2 separate regions of the Homo sapiens genome follow, and region 1 is linked to region 2. A link means that fine-mapping ties the variant in region 2 to the expression of a gene that starts in the linked region. Tissue or cell type: monocytes. Region 2 holds a variant in brackets; the other region holds the start of a gene. All regions are shown on one strand. Distances are between the middles of the regions.

Evidence for each region.
Region 1: it holds the start of SRI, and the variant in region 2 is fine-mapped to the expression of SRI in monocytes (BLUEPRINT, PIP 0.95).

What each region holds. Positions count from the first base shown.
Region 1 is chr7:88,215,289-88,225,565 of GRCh38, reverse strand. It overlaps SRI (sorcin), which reads left to right and starts at 5,528. Exons shown (of 8, transcript NM_003130.4): 1 at 5,528-5,590; 2 at 6,624-6,707; 3 at 8,375-8,444. The coding sequence starts at 5,540. SRI-AS1 (SRI antisense RNA 1) reads right to left here and starts at 8,906. Exons shown (of 3, transcript NR_120517.1): 1 at 8,809-8,906; 2 at 6,342-6,817. It overlaps LOC124901691 (a long non-coding RNA gene), which reads left to right and starts at 8,982. Exons shown (of 2, transcript XR_007060419.1): 1 at 8,982-9,123. RefSeq lists silencers at 5,306-5,805, 6,453-6,542.
Region 2 is chr7:88,298,674-88,308,950 of GRCh38, reverse strand. STEAP4 (STEAP4 metalloreductase) reads left to right here and starts at 2,057. Exons shown (of 5, transcript NM_024636.4): 1 at 2,057-2,159. The region is part of intron 1 of LOC124901692 (a long non-coding RNA gene); the gene reads right to left. The variant T/G (reference allele first, on the strand shown) is at 5,746.

The DNA of each region.
Region 1 (10,277 bases), 83 kb after region 2:
AATAATCTAACTGGCATGGCTGGGTAAAGTTTAAGTAGGCCATCAGAAAATACTTTGTAGTCCATAGAGCATTAACTCATCCAGGCCCCTACTCAAAGTACAAAACTGCCCTTTAGCATCACTGACAGCCTCTTCTTGATCACTTCTAGTGATGGGGAACTCATCTTTGGAAGGTCATTTTTGACAGCCCTAATGATAAGAAAGTATATATATAAAGTGTGTGTGTGTTTGTAAAAATACACACATATATTTACATATGTACAATGATATACATACATACACATATATGTATATAGGCATATATATTTAGCCATAATAAATTCCTCCAACATCAGCTTCCTGGTTAATCCTGATCATCAACTCCAGCTCAGAGCTTCATTAAGGGAAGGAACAGGTCAGTGAGAATCTATTCTGTAGGAACAGGAACATGGGAACGTTTGTCACAGAGCTGATGACTGCCCTTGCTGTGTTTTGTTAATAACTGATTTATCTTGCTTATCATGCCTATTCCAGGCAAGTAGAATGAGTTTGCTTTCTCTGAGTTCCAGGGAGGAGGAAGCCAACACAGATGAAAGGGTCCCTGTGCTGTTCAAGAGGGTAGCACTAGCCACACAGCTATTCCATTTTAAATTAAACTAAATTAAAATTTTAGTTCCTCATTTCACAGGCTCAATAGCCATATGTGATTAGTTATTGTGTGGCATAGTTATCAAACATTTCTATTGTAGCAGAAGTTGTTTGAAGAGCTGTGGTTGATGATTCATTACCATCTACAATATGCCAGGGACCAGTTAAACTCTACATGCAAGCACTAAAACATCAATAGTGGAAGTTTTCTATCCCTTGAAAAAATTACATAATAGCATGATTAACTGAGCTCTTACTCCGGACAGTTCAAGAAAAAGGGTGGCTTTTATTCCCAAATGAACATCATAGGCTTCACACTCTTTCCCAACAATCTTAAGAAAGTGGAGATACTATTAATTGGTTACCTATGTTGTTATCAAATGCTCATTTCCACTTACATTTGGAGATCTGAGCTTCTCTCTAAGGCAGAGGTCTTTAAATCATGAGGTGCCACACCCAGATCAGAACTAAACAAAAATTGAAACTTTAAATTGGCAAATGTCATTGCTCATTTCTTCCTAACAAGTGAAGACCTATGGTTAATTCAACTGCAGGTATGGTGAAATAACTACAGTTACTTAGTTAGACACTATTTCTTTCACCACTTATCTGAGCGAAGAAGTCCAGGTTGGATACTATATGTAGAGCTTTATATTAACTTTTCTCCAGGAATAAGAAAGTGTCCACACTGCCGTTTGTCTTGAAAACATAATTAGGGAAGGTGTACCACAAAAGAATGGGATTCTCTCTGAGAGCATGTTTATCTACTGTCACAGCTTTAATTGGGAAGGGTGAAATATCTACATCTGGCTAGGTCTGCTCTTCAAGAGCTGGGGCCAGATATTTGCCATCTCTCAGCCTTGGTCTTTTCTTCTGTAAACAGCAGGATTGGAGTATATGATCAGAAAGGTTTCTGTAATTCCAATGACTTCCCAAAATAACCATGACCTGCATCCTATCTATAAACCTCACATAGTTCTCTCCCTAACCCATGCTGTTGTCACAACCCTCCTACAGTCTTTTTTTTAGGACTTAGTAAATCGTTCTGACAAATAACTGTATTCTACCCATAGGCTTTATCTTACAGTCAGCAAATCATTTGCTAAAGTGCTAAACTGCCAGAGTCATAAGCCCGCATTCTGGAGGGGCTTCCAGCAGTGGTTGGTAAACTACTGCCCAAAGGCCAAATCTGACCCACCTCCTATTTCTGTACATCCAAGAGCTCAGAATAATATTTACATTTTTAAATGGTTGGAAAAATAAAATTAAGCATAATATTTCATGTCATATGAAATTCAAATTTCAGTGTCTATAAATAAAGTTGCATTGGAACCCAGCGACATCCATTCATTTATCTATTGTCTATGGATACTTGTGGCCTACACAGCAGAGTTGAGTGGTATTTGGCCATACCACTATGACTACATAGTCTACATACCACTATGTATGTAGACTCTCTCATACAGAGACTGTATGGCCCACAGGCCTAAAATATTTACTACCTGGCCCTTTACCTGCCCCTGGGTGTAGAGCACAGACTCTAGAGTCAGATGGCTTGGCAGCATAGCTCAGCTCTGTTCTGTTCCTTCCCCTTCCTCAAAACTGTATAATAGGAATGACAATAGTACCTATCCCATGGGTTTTTATTAAGATTAAGCAAATAAGTAAAATGCGATGAGGATCTGGCATATTTTTATTATTATATATATGTCTGATGGTATTATAAGTTGCCACAATTTTTTCCAGCAAACTAAAGTATTAGCAGCTGACCAATTTGTTAGCAATAATTGTAAGAATTGAATTTGCAACACTCCATTAAAATTCAATTCTTTGTCAGATGAGTAGGTAGCGAAAATTTTCTCCCATTTTGTAGGTTGCCTGTTCACTCTGATGGTAGTTTCTTTTGCTGTGCAGAAGCTCTTTAGTTTAATTAGATCCCATTTGTCAATTTTGTCTTTTGTTGCCATTGCTTTTGGTGTTTTGGACATGAAGTCCTTGCCCATGCCTATGTCCTGAATGGTAATGCCTAGGTTTTCTTCTAGGGTTTTTATGGTTTTAGGTCTAACGTTTAAATCTTTAATCCATCTTGAATTGATTTTTGTATAAGGTGTAAGGAAGGGATCCAGTTTTAGCTTCCTACATATGGCTAGCCTGTTTTCCCAGCACCATTTATTAAATAGGGAATCCTTTCCCCATTTCTTCTTTTTGTCAGGTTTGTCAAAGATCAGATAGTTGTAGGTATGCGGCGTTATTTCTGAGGGCTTTGTTCTGTTCCATTGATCTATATCTCTGTTTTGGTACCAGTACCATGCTGTTTTGGTTACTGTAGCCTTGTAGTATAGTTTGAGGGCTAATATCCAGAATCTACAGTGAACTCAAACAAATTTACAAGAAAAAAACAAACAACCCCATCAAAAAGTGGGCGAAGGACATGAACAGACACTTCTCAAAAGAAGACATTTATGCAGCCAAAAAACACATGAAAAAATGCTCATCATCACTGGCCATCAGAGAAATGCAAATCAAAACCACTATGAGATACCATCTCACACCAGTTAGAATGGCAATCATTAAAAAGTCAGGAAACAACAGGTGCTGGAGAGGATGTGGAGAAATAGGAACACTTTTACACTGTTGGTGGGACTGTAAACTAGTTCAACCATTGTGGAAGTCAGTGTGGCGATTCCTCAGGGATCTAGAACTAGAATTACCATTTGACCCGCCATCCCATTACTGGGTATATACCCAAAGGACTATAAATCATGCTGCTATAAAGACACATGCACACGTATGTTTATTGCGGCATTATTCACAATAGCAAAGACTTGGAACCAACCCAAATGTCCAACAATGATAGACTGGATTAAGAAAATGTGGCACATATACACCATGGAATACTATGCAGCCATAAAAAATGATGAGTTCATGTCCTTTGTAGGGACATGGATGAAATTGGAAATCATCATTCTCAGTAAACTATCGCAAGACCAAAAAACCAAACACCGCATATTCTCACTCATAGGTGGGAACTGAACGATGAGATCACATGGACACAGGAAGGGGAATATCACACTCTAGGGACTGTGGTGGGGTGGGGGGAGGGGAGAGGGATAGCATTGGGAGATATACCTAATGCTAGATGACGAGTTAGTGGGTGCAGCGCACCAGCATGGCACATGTATACATATGTAACCAACCTGCACAATGTTCACATGTACCCTAAAACTTAAAGTGTAATTAAAAAAAAAATTCAATTCTTTAGCAGTAAAGCAGTGGGAAGATGTCTAAGGACAACTGATATGCCAATTCGTATAGCCGTTTATCCACGAAGCTAATTCTGCAGTACTTAAAAATATTTTATATGCTTTATACTTCTTTCAAACTTGAGTCTTGAGCTTGTACTCAACATCGAGTTCGGCCCTGACATCTACTCTTTATAGTCGGTTACCTCTTTCTGAAGAAACAGGCTTCCAAAGAGAGACCAGGGGACTCATTAGATGTCTCATCTACCTTGATGATTGCTACCTTGATGATTGAAAACAGTAACCTGCTTCCTGAATCAAACACAAAACAGGCAACATGCAGTGTCTTTGCTATGCCACAACAGGGACTATTAGAATTTTTCTCACAATTCGGACTTTGGTTTTCAAAAGGGCTTGCGAGGGAAGTTACACACAAGAGAAAAACAATGAACCGAATGAGGACAATAGCCCACGAATTTAGAATGGAGGAAGCCCGTCCACCACAGCGAAAAAGCACAGTACCACATTGGCGGGTGCTCCAATATTTGTGAAATGTTGATGACCCTTTAAATGTTTCTGTGCAACCTCCACAACAAATACTGTGAATCTTGCTTATTAATGCGTTTCTCAATACGTTAAAATTCAGGAAATCATTAAGTCTAGTCCTTAACAGTGAAGGGCAAGCAATTTTCTGTCATTGAAATTACACAAAACAAAACAAAAAGCTCACGCCTGAATTGCTTCGGACTATTCAACTGGAAGATAGAAAAATATATGAAGTAAAGAAGAATAACCTACATAGAAGTTCCTATCTCTTATCTTCCTGAATACTTACCAGTACACTATTAGTTTGTTCTAAACTTTTCTTATATAAAAAGTAGCTGAATACTTTTAGGGAAATGGATTGTTTTGTCTGAATCATCCAGATAATTCAAACAATTCATTTTCCTAAGAACGATATGTGTGAGTCTGTCCTGCCCGGAAAATGCCCTCTGTCCTACTCAGGACACAAGTCACGCTCAGCTTAAACAGGCAAGGAATTGTCCCCTAGGAAGGAAATACGCCGTTGTCGTTCAGTGAACTCTGCAACCAACAGCAAGCCAAACTCTCCCTTGCACACAGTTCGTCAAGTTAATTCTTATTTTCCAAGGGCGCTTTCGTATTTCCATCTTTCAAAGACTCCTTCACCCACTGGCACCTAAGGCTTGCCCTAACGCATCCAGCCCCTGCCTCGCGATGGTGCGCTCCGCTTATAATAGCTCCGTCCTGTCCAATAAAGTTGTTTAAAATAAGAAATGTGCCAGATAATAGCCAAGTCCGAAGGAAAAAAAAAAAAAAAGAATTCCTGGGGTGGTGTATTGGTGTTGGAATGTGCCATTAGTTTTGGAGGGAGGAAAGTCCCTGGTGTGAATTGCCTCGCAGGTCGTAGGCCGCCACTGGACCTTCAGTCGTGCACTGCATTAGCGCCGTAATGGCAAAGATACGAAGAAGCGCGCAGGCAGGGGAGCCACGGCCGCGCGCACAGGCAAGAGCTGGAGACGACTGCGGAGCGCGTCCCCCACGCCCGCGTGGTGCGCTCTGGGGCGGCCCCCTAGCGGCAGGGCGGGGCGGGGCAGGGGGCGGAGAGGCCTGGCGCACAGGGCGAGGGCGGCTGCGGCGCAGTCTGCAGCATGGCGTACCCGGGGCATCCTGGCGCCGGCGGCGGGTACTACCCAGGCGGGGTAAGTGCTGACTGCGCGGGATCGCGGCCCAGGCGGCTCCGGGGCGCTAAGAGGCCACCTTGGAGATGCTGCGGCCAGCGGGGTGAGGCGCTGCTGGGCGGCTACCCGGGCTCCTTCCGCCCTCGGCTTCTCCCTGCGCTCGCGGCCTCGCCCTAGGCCCCTGGGGTTCGGCCTCTCCCCACGTTTCCCCGTCCCTTCTCCTGGATGGCCCTGCGGGGCCAAGGTGAGGGTGGATTGGGACCCTAGAAGCCCACCCTGCGGCTTCTCGGATACGCGGCGTGAAATCGTGTTAATTGGGTGTTGGCTGACCCCCACCCCACCCCACCCCCGCCTTCTTGGTTGCCTCCCAGAGCAACAACAGTCATTTTATTCTAGAATGATATACCTTCCTCCCTTTAAAAAACAAACAAACAAACAAACAAACAAACAAACAAAAAACGAGTGAGAAGGGGGACGGAAAAAAAGGGAAAACCTGCTGAAGTAAAAGACCTGTAGGAAGGCAGCCTCGCCGGGCGTCTGGGATGCGCGTTGTCTTGGGAACTGTTTCCGAGACAGGCAATGTTCCCTCGCCACCCACGAGATACAGCCCGGCCGGACACCTTACTCTTCCCTAGGCTACACCCGTCTCAGAATGTTACCAACTCCAGCCTTCCATCGTTCATAAAACGCTCTTAAAATACCATAAATGCTGTAACAACAAAAGGAGAATTTGAAGCCCTGCCATTCGTTGGCTTACCTAGTTTGCACTCACCTCAGTAACCTTCAGGTTAATAGGGATTTTAAAAGTTGCTTTACATATGTAGACATCACTTTCACAGCAACTCTTTATGGTCTAAGTCGCCAGTTTTTAAATTACGGGGTGTGAATGGAAGAGAGGGGTGGAGTGTTGGCAGAGTGTGCCCGGTGGTGGGGAGGTGAGCCTTGTGAAGGGCGGGCAGGCGGGCAGTTGTCTGGCCTTGCACAAAAGCCCTCAGTGGTGAAAGAAGAAAACTTGATTCGGCAGAATGACGTGTATGTGTTTCCTGTTTCACAGTATGGAGGGGCTCCCGGAGGGCCTGCGTTTCCCGGACAAACTCAGGATCCGCTGTATGGTTACTTTGCTGCTGTAGCTGGACAGGTTAGCTTTTCCCTTTAATATTAAAGAGCCGTTATTGTCTGCATTTGTGGTAGCTTTTGATATAGTGACACAGAAAAGCGAACTTCCTGTGGTACTGAGTCCCTTTGCTTCTGCAAAAGAAAAAAAAAGTTGTTTCTTATTTTAGTTTTTTATTTCTGAATGTTCAGAATAAATGAGGACAAAGTGTTACTCGTATTTATGTGAGTTCAGTTCGAAAGCAAACTTGTGGTTGAATTAAAGGGTCCAGGATGGTTTCAAGCGAAAAAATTCAAGATCTGGTAAATATAAACGCTTGTTTGTACAACTTAAAGACATATATTAGTAATTACATAGCTCGATTCTAATGGGCACTTTCTTTGGGTTGAACTTGATTGCTAATCATTCACCCCCTTAGGAAATATGGTAAAAACCCACCAGCTTCTAAATAAGGAAGTTACTGTTCCCTTCTTAGTATCAGAAAGTTAATCTTGTGAACAGTGTAGTTTCTCTTTGATGCAGATGCTGTTACTAGGTCAGCCCCTCCATGTCCTTATTAGGTGTTCTGGCCTGTTGACCCAGAGAAGCAATTAAGGTCAGCTCCCCAAGACCTTTCACTTGTCTGCATTCTGAGTTGTATGACAGGTGCTATCTTACATTGACAGGTGCTATCTTACATTGAGAGAGGACACTTCCCTAGTTCATGAGGTCACTGTGTGCAGTAAATATACTGTTGGTATAACCCAGACACGTCCAGAGGAGATGTTTGTTCTTATGAATTCAACCTAGTTTTGTTTTGACCAAAAGCTAGAAATAGCAAAATCTTAATGTGAAAACTGTAGAATATTATGGGATAAAAAACCTAAGACCACTTTTAAGGTAGTACTCTAAGAAATACAGCTTAAGAAATTGAATGGAAAATATAGTCTAAAACTGGAAGACCTTCCCCTTAAGTATCTACTTAAACTGTTAATGATCTGTATCTTTGAAACCACAAGGCATGGCAAACCTCAAGACTAGCATTCTTAGATTGCCAGTGCCTCCAGCATGTAAGTGACTCCACCTGCTTAGCTTTCAGCAGCCCTGGCCTGTATTCAGCATACCCATTGTCTTTCAAATTGCTGATCTTGCTCCTCATTTATAACTTATAATACCCAGTGACTTGAAGATTTAGGTATTTTATTTTAAAGTCCCTAAAAATCACATATATCTAGTTCTTTCCCAGTTCAGCCAGTGAATGGGCACTGGGAACCTAATGTGAATCTTCCAGATGTATTTGTGCTCTGAAAAAAATGATTCACTATATCATAAGAAAAAGTGACCAAGGAGGCCTTTTTCTGTTTGAACCAAGCCTTCTATTTATTGATGTCTGCTTTGTACCTTGCTCTCTCCACCCCCATCAAAAAAAAATATTTTAAAATGTTTAGCTGTAGCAGTTTGCTAGCTCAGATTGAGAGAAGAGTAGTTGCCAAGACAGACTCTTTCTTTCATCATTAAATTACTTTTGGAAGTGGGTTAAGGAAAAGAATGCCCACTTTTGGAAGGCATTCCTTTTAATAAAAAAAAGGCATTCCTTTTAAATAAAAAAAAGATACTGATTTTCTTTGTTGTTATTGCTTCATTGAATGCTGAAGGTAAACAACTTGAAAGTACAAATCACTATTATGATTCCTCTAATTTTTTTTCAAAAGGATGGGCAGATAGATGCTGATGAATTGCAGAGATGTCTGACACAGTCTGGCATTGCTGGAGGATACAAACGTAAGTTGACAGTCCCAAAGTTTGTCTAAATATACTCTTGTGTTTCCTATCTTAGCTGTTACTTGTGATTACAGCCTTCAAGAAAACTGAGCTTGTCGGATCTAGCAAAGTTTAGAATTCCGAAAGCTAAAATACAGTACTATTTCAAAATGTTGATTTGAAAACAGTTTTTAAATCACTCCAGGCTGGGCACAGTGGCTCACACCTGTAATCCCAGTACTTCAGAGGCCCAGGCAGGAGGATCGCTTGAAGCCAAGAGTTTTTGGCTGCAGTAATCTATGATTGTACCACTGCACTCCAGCCTGAGCAACAGAGCAAGACCTTGTCTTTAAAATAATAATAATAATAAATTATTCCATCCTACCTGCCAATCTAGTGGATTTCTCAGATTTGGGTTTTGTGTACCTAGAACCAGTGAGACAGTTTGGGTGGCCTCCTTCACAGAGGACAAGGTAGGGTGCTGAAATGGAATCTGCCAGGTCAGGGGTCATTAACTGACATTAGGAACTGATATTTACTGTTATTTGCCAAGAGCCTACTCTGCCCTGACCTGGTGGCACTTAGGGCTTTGAGTTGCTGCCCTGCACCCCTGGTCCCTGAGTGGCCTATCCTGCACTCCTGGTCTCTGAGCTTTGGGCATGCTCCTGCTAACATAAGTGGTTGCCATGACATCCCTCAGGTCTTTCCTCTTCCACTTCATAGAATGTATTCAGGCTAAGTGGGAAGTGGCCTTTCTACTTACTGGACCTGCTGCTCCATAATTCAGCCCTTACCCTACCCCTGCCTTTTGAACACTCTGCCATGAGCTGAGAGTAATGAAATACTGCAAAGATGCTCCATCCCTGGCAGGGCACAGTGGCTCACACCTGTAATCCCAGCACTTTAGGAGACTGAGGTGGGAGGATTGCTTGAGCCCGGGAGTTCAAGACTAGCCTGGGCAACATAGTGAAACCTTGTCTCTGCAAAAAATTTAAAAATTAGCCAGGCATGGTGGCATGCACCTGTGGTCCCAGCTACTCAGGAGGCTGAGGTGGGAGGATTATACAAGCCCAGGAGGCGGAGGTTGCAGTGAGCCAAGATTGTGCCACTGCACTCCAGCCTGGGTGACAGCCTGTCTCAGAAAATCCAAAAAATTGCTGCATCCCAACTGGGGGCTTCTCATCATCCAACACATATGAAGTGGTTCCTCTTGAAATTAGATCTTGAACATGATAGATTTCCAGGGTAGAGAATAATGTCTTAGTTCAAATACATTACCAACTTCTTTGCCAGTTGTTAATTGAGACAAAACATCAAATTGAAGACCCAATTTCATGGTTAGCTGTGGATTAAAATGTTCAAACTAGAATTCACAGCTGTGAATTTATAGTGGCCTTTTTTTAAAAACTATTTGACATGGCATGTATTAGATGGCTGTCTTTGAACTCTTTGCATTTGTTTTCATTATCCTTTGTTTTATGTGACTTTAGTATCCTATTACTCTTTCCTAATTAGAGGAATTAATACAAACGAAGAACCTTTCAAGTTCCTGTTATTTAATCTAGTCCTAAACAAAATAAGCACTTTTTGGATTAGGGGATGTTATTCTTTACTGTGTAGGCAGTACATTTAAATTGTTAATTGTTACGCAATTGAGCTGGTAAACAAGGTAGGCCTGCCTATTAGCAGGGTTTATCAAAGTGCAGTGAGATCACAGCATGGCCTGTTATTCTACATCCTTTCAGTAGATGAGGTGTGGCAGATTTTAGAATCTGACTAACAAAATGGGTTGTATATTGTTAGAGAGCAGTCCTTTTAAAATTTCATTGAGAAAGCCACATTTAGTGATGGCCT
Region 2 (10,277 bases):
AGTCATATAGAAGTATAGCATGTACAATTATGTACAGTATATAATACTTGATAATGATAATAAATAGCTATGTTACTGGCTTATGTATTTATTATATGTACCTTTTAAATTATTTTTGAGTGTACTCCTTCTACTTGTATTTTTTAAAAAGTTAACTGTAAAACAGCCTCAGGAAGGTCTTTCAGCAGATATTCCAGAAAAAGGCATTGCTACCACAGAAGACAGCTCCATGCATGTTACTGCCCCTGAGGACCTTTCAGTAACAAAAGACATACAGGTGGAAGACAGTGATATCACATATCTTGATTCTGTGTAGGTCTATGCTAATATGTGTGTTTGTGTCTTCATTTTTAGCAAAAAAATTAAAACTTTTAAAAACGGGACAAAAGCTTATCGAATAAGGATATAAAGACAAAAACTATTTGTACACACTGTACAATATGTGTTTTAAGCTGCGTTATTACAAAACTCAAAAAGTTTTTTAAAACTTAGAAGTTTAAAAAGTAAAAATGTTACAGAAAGCTAAGGGTAATTTACTATTGAAGGAAGAAAAATATTTCTTATAATAGCATAGCCTAAATGTAGTGTTTATAAAGTCTACAGTAGTGTATAGTAATATCCTAGGCCTTCACACTCTCTCACTTACTCACCCAGAGCAACTTCCAGTCCTGTAAGCTCCATTCATGGTAAGTGTTCCATACAGGTATACCATTTTTTATCTTTTATACCACATTTTTACTATACCTTTTCTATGCTTAGATACACAAATACTTACCATTGTGTTACAACTGACTACAGTATTCAGAAAAGTAGCATACTGAACAGGTTTGTAGACTAGGAGCAATCGGCTATATACCATCTAGCCTAGGCCTGTAGTAGGTGATACCATCTAGGTTTGTGTAAGTGCACTCTATGATGTTCACACAATGACGAAATTGCTTGATGAGACATTCCTCAGAATATATTTAATAAATTGCTTAATGAGGCATTCCTCAGAATAAATCCCCATTGTTAAGTAATGCATTTTGCTAGGTGTTATGGAAAATTCCAGACTGAAAAAACTAGGGTGTCATCCCTCGAAGACTGCAGTCCAGGACAAGACACACACACATGATAATAACTCTTTTGAAAGGCAAATTGTCTTAATTGCTGTGCTAAAAGTATAAACTACTGTATAGAGAAAGAAAATATTAATTGCAACTAATGGCTAAGAAAAGACCTCTTGAAAGACATGGGGTCTGACCAACCCCACAAGAAGCTATGAGGAGAGTTGCAATCCAGACAAAGGGAAGGTTGACTCAACAACCCCTTTCCATGGGAGGAACAGGCCTCCCATGTGGCCGGGCCTCTGGAGCTTGGCAAGCGTATGCTGTGGAATTTAAGACCCATGGCTGAGTGGAGATCATTGGGAAGACTCTGGGATTTAGATTACAGAGTTTGGGAGTGTATGGATGCTTTGCCCCATAGTTTATCAGGATTATTTCAATCTTAAACAACCAGGGCTGTGGTTTTTGACCTTCTCTGTAGAAAGACACATTTGCATGTATATCATAAGGTATCCCGATCCCTCTTTCATTTGTTTTATTTCTTTAATCTACCTAAATTAAGACCTGAAAACTCAAGATCTTCCAAGTTATGAGCCCCATAAGAACCCATGGCTTCCAGGCGGAGGGGAAAGATACCACCTTTTCTATAAACTGAGACAAGATGGCAAAAGAATTGCCTAGAAGCCTAGTCCAGGTGCTGTTTTCTCAGCTACTCAAAGAGATCCTTCTTGCTCCTTTAGGAAAGGGGGATTCCTAGACCTCTCCAAACCTCAATCACCCTGGGATGCACAGATGCCAAGGGCTCGGGTGTAACCCTTAAAATCCCCGCTTCCCGGGGGTCAGCGGCACCATCAGCAGCACCGCAGTATAGAAGTTCCGGTCCTTCCAGCTGCTGGGATTCTCAGCTTGAACTCTTCCAGGAAACAAGTTCTTTTCCGCTTCTCTTGCGAAATCCAGCAGACCGTCCCGCCCTTCTCTGGCTTCTTATAGCAGCGAGAGCCACAAGCCACAGCGCTGAGCTGCAGGCGCGGCGAAACTTCCCTCTACCCGCCCGGCCCGCGGCGCGCACCGTTGGCGCTGGACGCTTCCTCCTTGGAAGCGCCTCTCCCTCAGGTGGGTCACTTTTCGCCACAAGGCTCCCGTCCCTTATCTGCTTCAGCTCACCTCCAGTCCCTGCTGCTAGGACCCCACTCCCCAGCCCATCGCACTGAAGAACAGGTGCTTGCAAACTCCCCGCCGCGCCCCGGCATCACTTTAGAGGAAAGTCACCTGAGGCTGCTCCGCGATTCAGCAAGCTTCTAACTTCCTGGAGTTTAAGGCTCATCCCTACCCCAGGGTGCAGACAAGCCCAAAGGGGGAAAATTAAGGGGTTAGATTCTTCTCTGCATCTTACTTCTGGATTGGCGCACTCTTGGGGCGCCCATCAAAAAGTAGGCTGGAAGAATGTGGCTTTAGCAGTCAGTCTCCAAGGTCTCAGATCCGAGGCTGCTTCTTGACCAGGCACTAAAAATTTGTCCTGATACCTGCAACCACTTCCATTTTTTTATCTTGATTTAAATTTCCTCTTGCAATTTAAAGGTTATTTTTCTGGAGGAAGATTGTTCAGAATATAATTTATTGTGAAGAGTAAATAAAGCCTCAGTTCCGTTTGTTTGTCCAGAGACAGAATTTTATTATTCTTTTTCCCACCTCTAGATGGTAATTTAGGAACTTTCTTTAAAAGATTGGTGTACTGAGGCTGGGTACGGTGGCTCAAGCCTGTTATCCCAACACTTTGGGAGGCCAAGGCCGATGGATCACTTGAGGTCAGGAGTTCGAGACCAGCCTGGCCAACATAGTGCAACCCAGTCTCTACTAAAAATACAAAAATTAGCCAGGCGTGGTGGCAGGTGCCTGTAATCCCAGCTACACAGGAGGCTGAGACAGGAAAATCACTTGAACCTGGGAGGTGGAGGTTGCAGTGAGCTGAGAAAGTGAATTGGATAGAGAATGGGGGAGGGGAGGAAGAATACTATTCCTAGTTCTATAATAACTAGAACCTCATTATCTCAGCCTCAGTTTCCACAGATGTAAAATAAAAGGCTGGCTACTGGGCCAGATGATCCAGAAAGTTCAACTCTAACAAGGTGAAAAGCCGTGACTAAAGATGCCTGCAAGTTTGAAATACATAGAAAATCTCCTTAATGCTACAACTATAATTCAGTGGTTACTTTTTTCATAATAATGCATGTTCCATTTTTATAAGGAAACTCTCCAGTTGTCGGGGGAAGAGTCTCTTCCCACAGGAGCATCTTAAAGTTCTGCCACATTTATCATTCAGAGAATACTCTCAGCTTTCAAAACCATTCTTCAGCCTTGCTATGTGAGAATGTCCTATTCCCTACAAATGGCAGTCATATAAATGTCACTCACATGAGAGAACATTTTTTTTTTCTGATACAGTAGGTATAATTTTGTAAAATGGCACATTTATTTGAAGCAGTAACTTTTCTGAGATATGGCCTTTTGCAAGGTCCCAAGTTTTTCAGAATGCTGTGATTTAGCACAATATGAGATTTGACCTGCATGTATTCTACCTGCATGGCAAACACTGCCAACCCAGAAAACAGGATGAGACACTTCCTATTTATCAGGCTCCAAGGCTGTAAAGTAAATGGTACATGTGTACAGAGAAATTGGGTCATAGCAGTTTTTCTATTTGGTAACGTTTACAGTTCCACTGAGGTTCACGTTGTTCACATTGTTGAAGTTCACATTGTTCAGAAACCAGGTGTACAAGGCCTGGCCCCTAGCTGAAGAACAATTTCCAGACTTCTGCCTTACTAAAGCTCGCTAACTGTTGTTTAGAAGGAACTAAACAGACTTTTTAAGATTGTTAATAAATTAAAAACCCCAGGCCTTGCACTATGTGTGAACAATTTTAAGAAAAATAAGGTCATTTGTTATGGAATTTTATATTCAAAGAAACTTGGAGTGGTCACTCTGCATTACTTTGTCTCTTGAAGGACTTCCCCTGAATCACCCTACTATTATTAATACTGTTATTAAAAGGATATAAATTCTCCTTTTAAAGGCTGGGTAGCTGATTCTGTTGTCACTCTCAGGAACACATTCCACTGTTTTAGGATCCTTACCACCTAGTTCTCTTCATAATTAATTTAGACGTGTTTATCAAATGCTACTTAAAAATCATTTTTTTTTTGGAAAATCTTAGGAAATCTGATAAGTTGCTAGCAAACACACACACACACACACACACACACAACAGCAGCAACACAGTAGTCCTTCAAAACCTGAAGATTGGGCACTTTGCTAGGGCACTTTGTAGCTAGTTTTTTCTGGGTTGTCCTCTGAGAAGGTAATTTGCTAGTGCCTGCAGCTACATCTACCAATAATTCTTACTATAACAATGCAGAGTAGGATGGGGATAGTGAAGTTTTCTGGGTGGGATTTTGTTTGTTTGTTTGTTTTTTTGTTGTAAGTTTATGCCAGATAATAATAATGTAAGGTTTACAGAGATAAGATCTCTGAAGTTACCTGTCTCTGTTCTTCACAGATTTTTTTTTATTATTATACTTTAAGTTTTAGGGTACATGTGCACAATGTGCAGGTTAGTTACATATGTATACATGTGCCATGCTGGTGCGCTGCACCCACTAACTCGTCATCTAGCATTAGGTATATCTCCCAATGCTATCCCTCCCCACTCCCCCCATCCCACAACAGTCCCCAGAGTGTGATGTTCCCCTTCCTGAGTCCACGTGTTCTCATTGTTCAGTTCCCACCTATGAGTGAGAATATGCGGTGTTTGGTTTTTTGTTCTTGCGATAGTTTACTGAGAATGATGATTTCCAATTTCATCCATGTCCCTACAAAGGACATGAAAAGAGACTGGTTTACTAATTAGGAAAACTTCCTGAACAGTTCTATATACTGTGTTAACTCCACTCAAGATATTTCTGATGACTTTTAGGTCATTTCCAAAGTGATTTGAATTAGTATTTGTCCTTTTGTTAAGAAGAAATCAGTCCTGGAAGGAATCAAACTAAATAAATAACTAAAGAATAATTAATGCATAAAACAAGGCATGCTAAGAAAACATTCTTGGCCTACATAGATTAACAATTTGTTCTTCCCAAATCATTAAGGAATAGAAAACAATGAATCCTTGTGCTGTTTAAAGATCCTCTTTCAGAAACATATCATTGCAAAAGAACACACTATTCTACTAAAGGAAGTATATACACTCTAATTAACTAGGCAGGACATTGACATCCCAATCTAAATTCTTCTCCACAATGTTCTGTAAGAGTTTATTCAGCCATGTGTGGAGAGGTTTACTGTACTGTACTTTGGCAGTCACATATTTCTGAAAAGCTATTTTGGGAGGACTTTTTTTTTTTTTTTTTGAGACTGAGTCTCGCTCTGTCACCCAGGCTGGAGTGCAGTGGCAGGATCTTGCCTCACTGCAACCTCTGCTCCTTGGGTTCAAGCAGTTCTCCTGCCTCAGCCTCCTGAGTAGCTGGGATTATAAGTGCCCACCACAATGCCCAGCTAATTTTTTTATGTTTAGTAGAGAAGGGGTTTCGCCGTGTTGGCCAGGCTTGTCTGGAACTCCGGTCCTCAGGTGATCCATCCGCCTTGGCCTACCAAAGTGCTAGGACTACAGGTGTGAGCCACCGCGCCCGGTTGGAGTTTT[T/G]TTTTTTTTTTTTTTTTTTTTAATGCAGATTATATGATCAATCCTAACATCAGGATAAAGTTCCCTTTTCATCTTAAAAGGAAGGAAAATGTTTGCAAAGAGTAATTTTGAAAAGTTAGGAACTATAATTCTAAATAAAAAGAAGGCTAAAAGAAAATAAAACTATATAGCACAGCTCTTGGAAGATTATTAGTAGAATACAAGCTAGTCAGTTTGGCCTCAGCACCCAATTTTTTTTTTTTTTTTTTTTTTTTGAGACAGTCTCACTCCTTCACTCAGGCTGGAGTACAGTAGCGCGATGTCAGCTCACTGCAACCTCCATCTCCTGGGCTCAAGCAATTCTCCTGCCTCAGCCTCCTGAGTAGCTAGAATTAAAGGCATGCACCACCAAGCCTACCTAATTTTTGCATTTTTAGTAGAGATGGGGTTTCGCCATTTTTGCCAGGCTGGTCTTCAACTCCTGACCTCAAGTGATCTGCCTGTCTTGGCCTCCCGAAGTGCTGGGATTACAGGCGTGAGTGACCGCACCTGGCCAGCACCCAATATTAAGGAAAAAAAAATGCATTAAGAACAGAGCCAGGGCTCAGAGAGCTGATGGCACCAGCACTGTGGAGCGTAGAAATAGGAAGGGATAATTAATGGTCATCGCTGATTGTTCATCTTTCATCTATACCTGCTCTTTTTACAGGGTGTGAAAACAGTTTTGAGCTCAAGTTAAATTGTGGCTGCAAAACTTTTGCACAGACTTTGGAAAACTTACTTGTTCCGCTTCCTGGCAGATTCAAGTCCCTCCTAGCCTGTAGGCGCCCATCCTCTCTACACATTCGTCTGCTCTGGCCATTACACTATGCATTGCAACAATTTGATTATATGCTTCATCTTTCCCAAGACCAAAGCTCCTTGAGGACAGGGTCCATCTCGTTTCTCACTTTATCCCTCTTAGTGTGGCTATTCAATAAATCTCTGTTGAAAGCAAGGCATTGCTAATAACACTGATTTTTATTTTTGGAAGATACTTACCTTATGGACATAGTACATAATGAGTATGGATGCTGCCTGCACAATATTAGTTAACAGGGTCAAAGTGCAGTGGCAAAGTCCACATTTTAACTTCCTACCATTCAGGGAGAGGCATGAGGTTGCTTTGAACTGTATAGCACATATAAAGTGAATAGTTGAAATTATTATAACATTTTATTTAAAGTAGAAGAAACTGCAGGAACCTTGGTATTTCCTGATTTAGTGTCCCTATTATGTTGCTATACTGTATTGTAGTTACAAATTTATTTGTAATATTTTGTATTCTAATTCGTTTTAAAGAGTGATATGGGGCCAAACACGGCGGCTCACGCCTGTAATCCCAGCACTGTGGGAGGCTGAGGCGGGCGGATTGCCTGAGCTCAGGAGTTCAAGATGAGCCTGGCCAACATGGTGAAACCACATCTCTACCAAAAATACAAAAATTAGCTGGGCGTGGTGGTGCACACCTGTAGTCCCTGCTACCTGGGAGGCTGAGGTGGGAGAATAGTTTGAACCCAGGAGGCTGAGGTGGGAGAATAATTTGAACCCAGGAGGTAGAGGATGGCACCACCGCACTCCAGCTGTCTGGAAAAAAAAAAAGTGATATGGGGCCAGGTGCAGTGGTTCACACCTATAATCCCAGCACTTTAGGAGGCTGAGGTAGGAGAATCACTTGAGACCAGGAGTTCAAGACTAGCCTGGGCGATGGTAAGACCCCATCTCTACAAAAAATAAAAATTAAAACGTTAGCTAGGTGTAGTAGTGCATACATGTAGTCTCAGCTACTTGGGAGGCGGAAGTGGGAAGATCTCTTGAGCCTGGGAGGTCAAGGCTGCATGAGCCATGATCATGCCACTGCACTCCTGCCTGGGTGACAGAGCAAGACCCTGTCTAAGAATGATATGCTCTTCTCCAGTACCAAAGTACTAAAGTGATTTATTCATCCTATTCAATTCCCTGACATAAGTGGCACAAGAAATGGGAGGAGATTGAGGAGAAAGCAATTAGCTGGTTGGTAAATGGTTCATTGCAGTTAATAATGAAAGTGTGCCAGTTGCCTCTGGTTTTCATAGTTGAGATCCTAAACTGCACTTACCCTAGTTCTGAGGTGTGTCTGAATAACTTTAAAATACGTGCTGGGGATGGTGGTACACAGATGGGTCCCTGTATCTATCTCCCTTAGGGAACCAAGAGTCTAAAGCTATCAGGTTTATAGCTAAAATTGTGTTGATGCCATGTGTGAGGTAGAGAGGGTCTGGAACCTTTGTTGGGGTAGGGAAACCACAAGGATTCTGTTTTCCTAAAGAACTTAGGAGCCTTGTAAGAAGGTGAGGCCATAAGAAAATAGATTTATGCTCAGATTCAGCCAGGACTGGGAAAATGGTATTATCCCATCAGCCCAAATATTTTCCCATTTTTGTGGTCACATTCCAGAGTCTTGGGGAAAAGGGTAAAAGAAGCAGGGGAAGAACCAGTGGTATGTTGGTAAATGCCTCTCTAAGGAAAAAAAAAGTCCTGATTTGTAGCACTTGGTGATTGTCATAAGGTAAAAACTCCTACTGTGACTGATTTCAAGCTCCCAGCTGGCAAGCTGGCCACAGCCACACCACTGAAAGGCTGAGATTAAAAACCTGAAAACTAGGCCAGGCACAGTGGCTCATACCTGTAATTCTAGCGCTTTGGGAGGCCAAAGGTGGGCAAAGTGGCATAGGGGATGTGGAGGGAGGGGCTGATTACTTGAGGCCAGGAGTTTGAAACCAGCCTGGCCAACATGGTGAAACCCAGTCTCTACTAAAAATACAAAAAAAAATGAGCTGGACATGGTGGCACGCACCTGTGATCCCAGCTACTCAGGAAGCTGAGGCATGAAAATCACTTGAACCCAAGAAGCAGAGGTTGCAGTGAGCTGAGATCACACCGCTGCACTCCAGCTTCGGCGACAGAGCAAGAGTATGTCTCAAAAACTAAAATAAAATAAAAACCTTGAAACTAAAAAGAAAGAGCTGTTTATTTTAAAATATTTATCAACTAGCAATGCTCTCAAGCTTGTATATCAGAATATTACAAAAGGTTAGAAGAAGGAATTTCAAGAGCACTTTCTCCCCTGAGGTCAGAAATGGAGCAGCTGCAAGGCCAGATTATAGCCAGCAGCTCCATCTGATGGGTCTCAGCAAACATCAGAGGCACTGGGGCCATGGGGAGTCCTTGCCTCTGAGTGCCGTATTAGAAGTTACCCAAAAGAAGATGAAGTAGGCTATATTCATAAGCATTGTGGACTGCCCCCAGAGATTTCTAAAAATGGTTGGGAGATACCTTAAAGCAGAATGGAGTTCCTCCAACAGCAAGGAATGGGGGTGGGGTCAAGATCCACAACAAAACTGCTTTCTCCAAACTAACTGGCAGTTATTGATATTTAGATAATTCCTATTGGCCTTAATCTAAAGATAAATGCCCATTCTTAAGAAATTTTATTTGAACAAAGTTAATTCAAAATTGAAATTACAAATTACTTCCCAAATATCTCTGACCACAATAGACCTAGAAAAGCAAAACCCACTAATGAACACTAAATATTAGGGGAGTTGATGCAGATCATCAGATTAAGCAAATGCTTATGTAGTATGTACAAGCCAAATGCCACCAAAGCCATGAGATAGAGCTGTTTTTCTGATAGTGGCAATCCACTGGTCCTGGTCATGACCAGATGCCTAATCTTTGGTGACCCACAGATTTGTAAGAAGTTGTTCAGGATTTAAAATGTAAATGGAAGTCAAGGTAAATTAACCCAGAGACACGACTGAATCCCTGACCTTGTTGTCATGAGTCCTGGGCTTTAATCAGATAAACTAACCAGCTTGGACAGCAGATAATGAACCTACCTGATGAAATTCTTGGCCAGAGAATTATAAAACAATCTTAATTTATCTTGACAGATACTGCTGAGATCGAAATGTGGCAACATGTATTAATGAGATTTTTAATTGAACTAGAATTTCGACAAAGAACCTAAATTTAAGATAAATAAGTTTATCCTAAAATACAATTAAAATAGTTAACATAGATCTCTATTACCTCACTTTCCTCATAATTTATAGTGTTAGTAAAATATTACTAACAATCACTTTAGTTGCCGCATATGACATAGTTAGTTCATAGCTAGTTGTTAGCAATTCATGTAGGATACATCTCTATAGAACATTAATGTAAAGATTGCCTTTAATTATGCTCTTGTGACTTGATGAAACTGTGCAAGTTAAGATTACTGTGTTTTTGTGTGCCATTCTATTGTCTAGCATAAAAAATAATCAGCAAATTCAGTTGCTATGGGATACAAAACATTTTCTCACAAAACAATTGAAATAATCAGTTTTTTAGCAACCAACCTGAAGTAGTTTCTTTATGTAGAAAAAGAGCTTTAAATGATATATTTATATTAATCTATAGCAATTAGTAACTTAAGTAGTTACTAGAACTTATTTTGGAAATCACAAGTTGATGATTTATCATGCTAC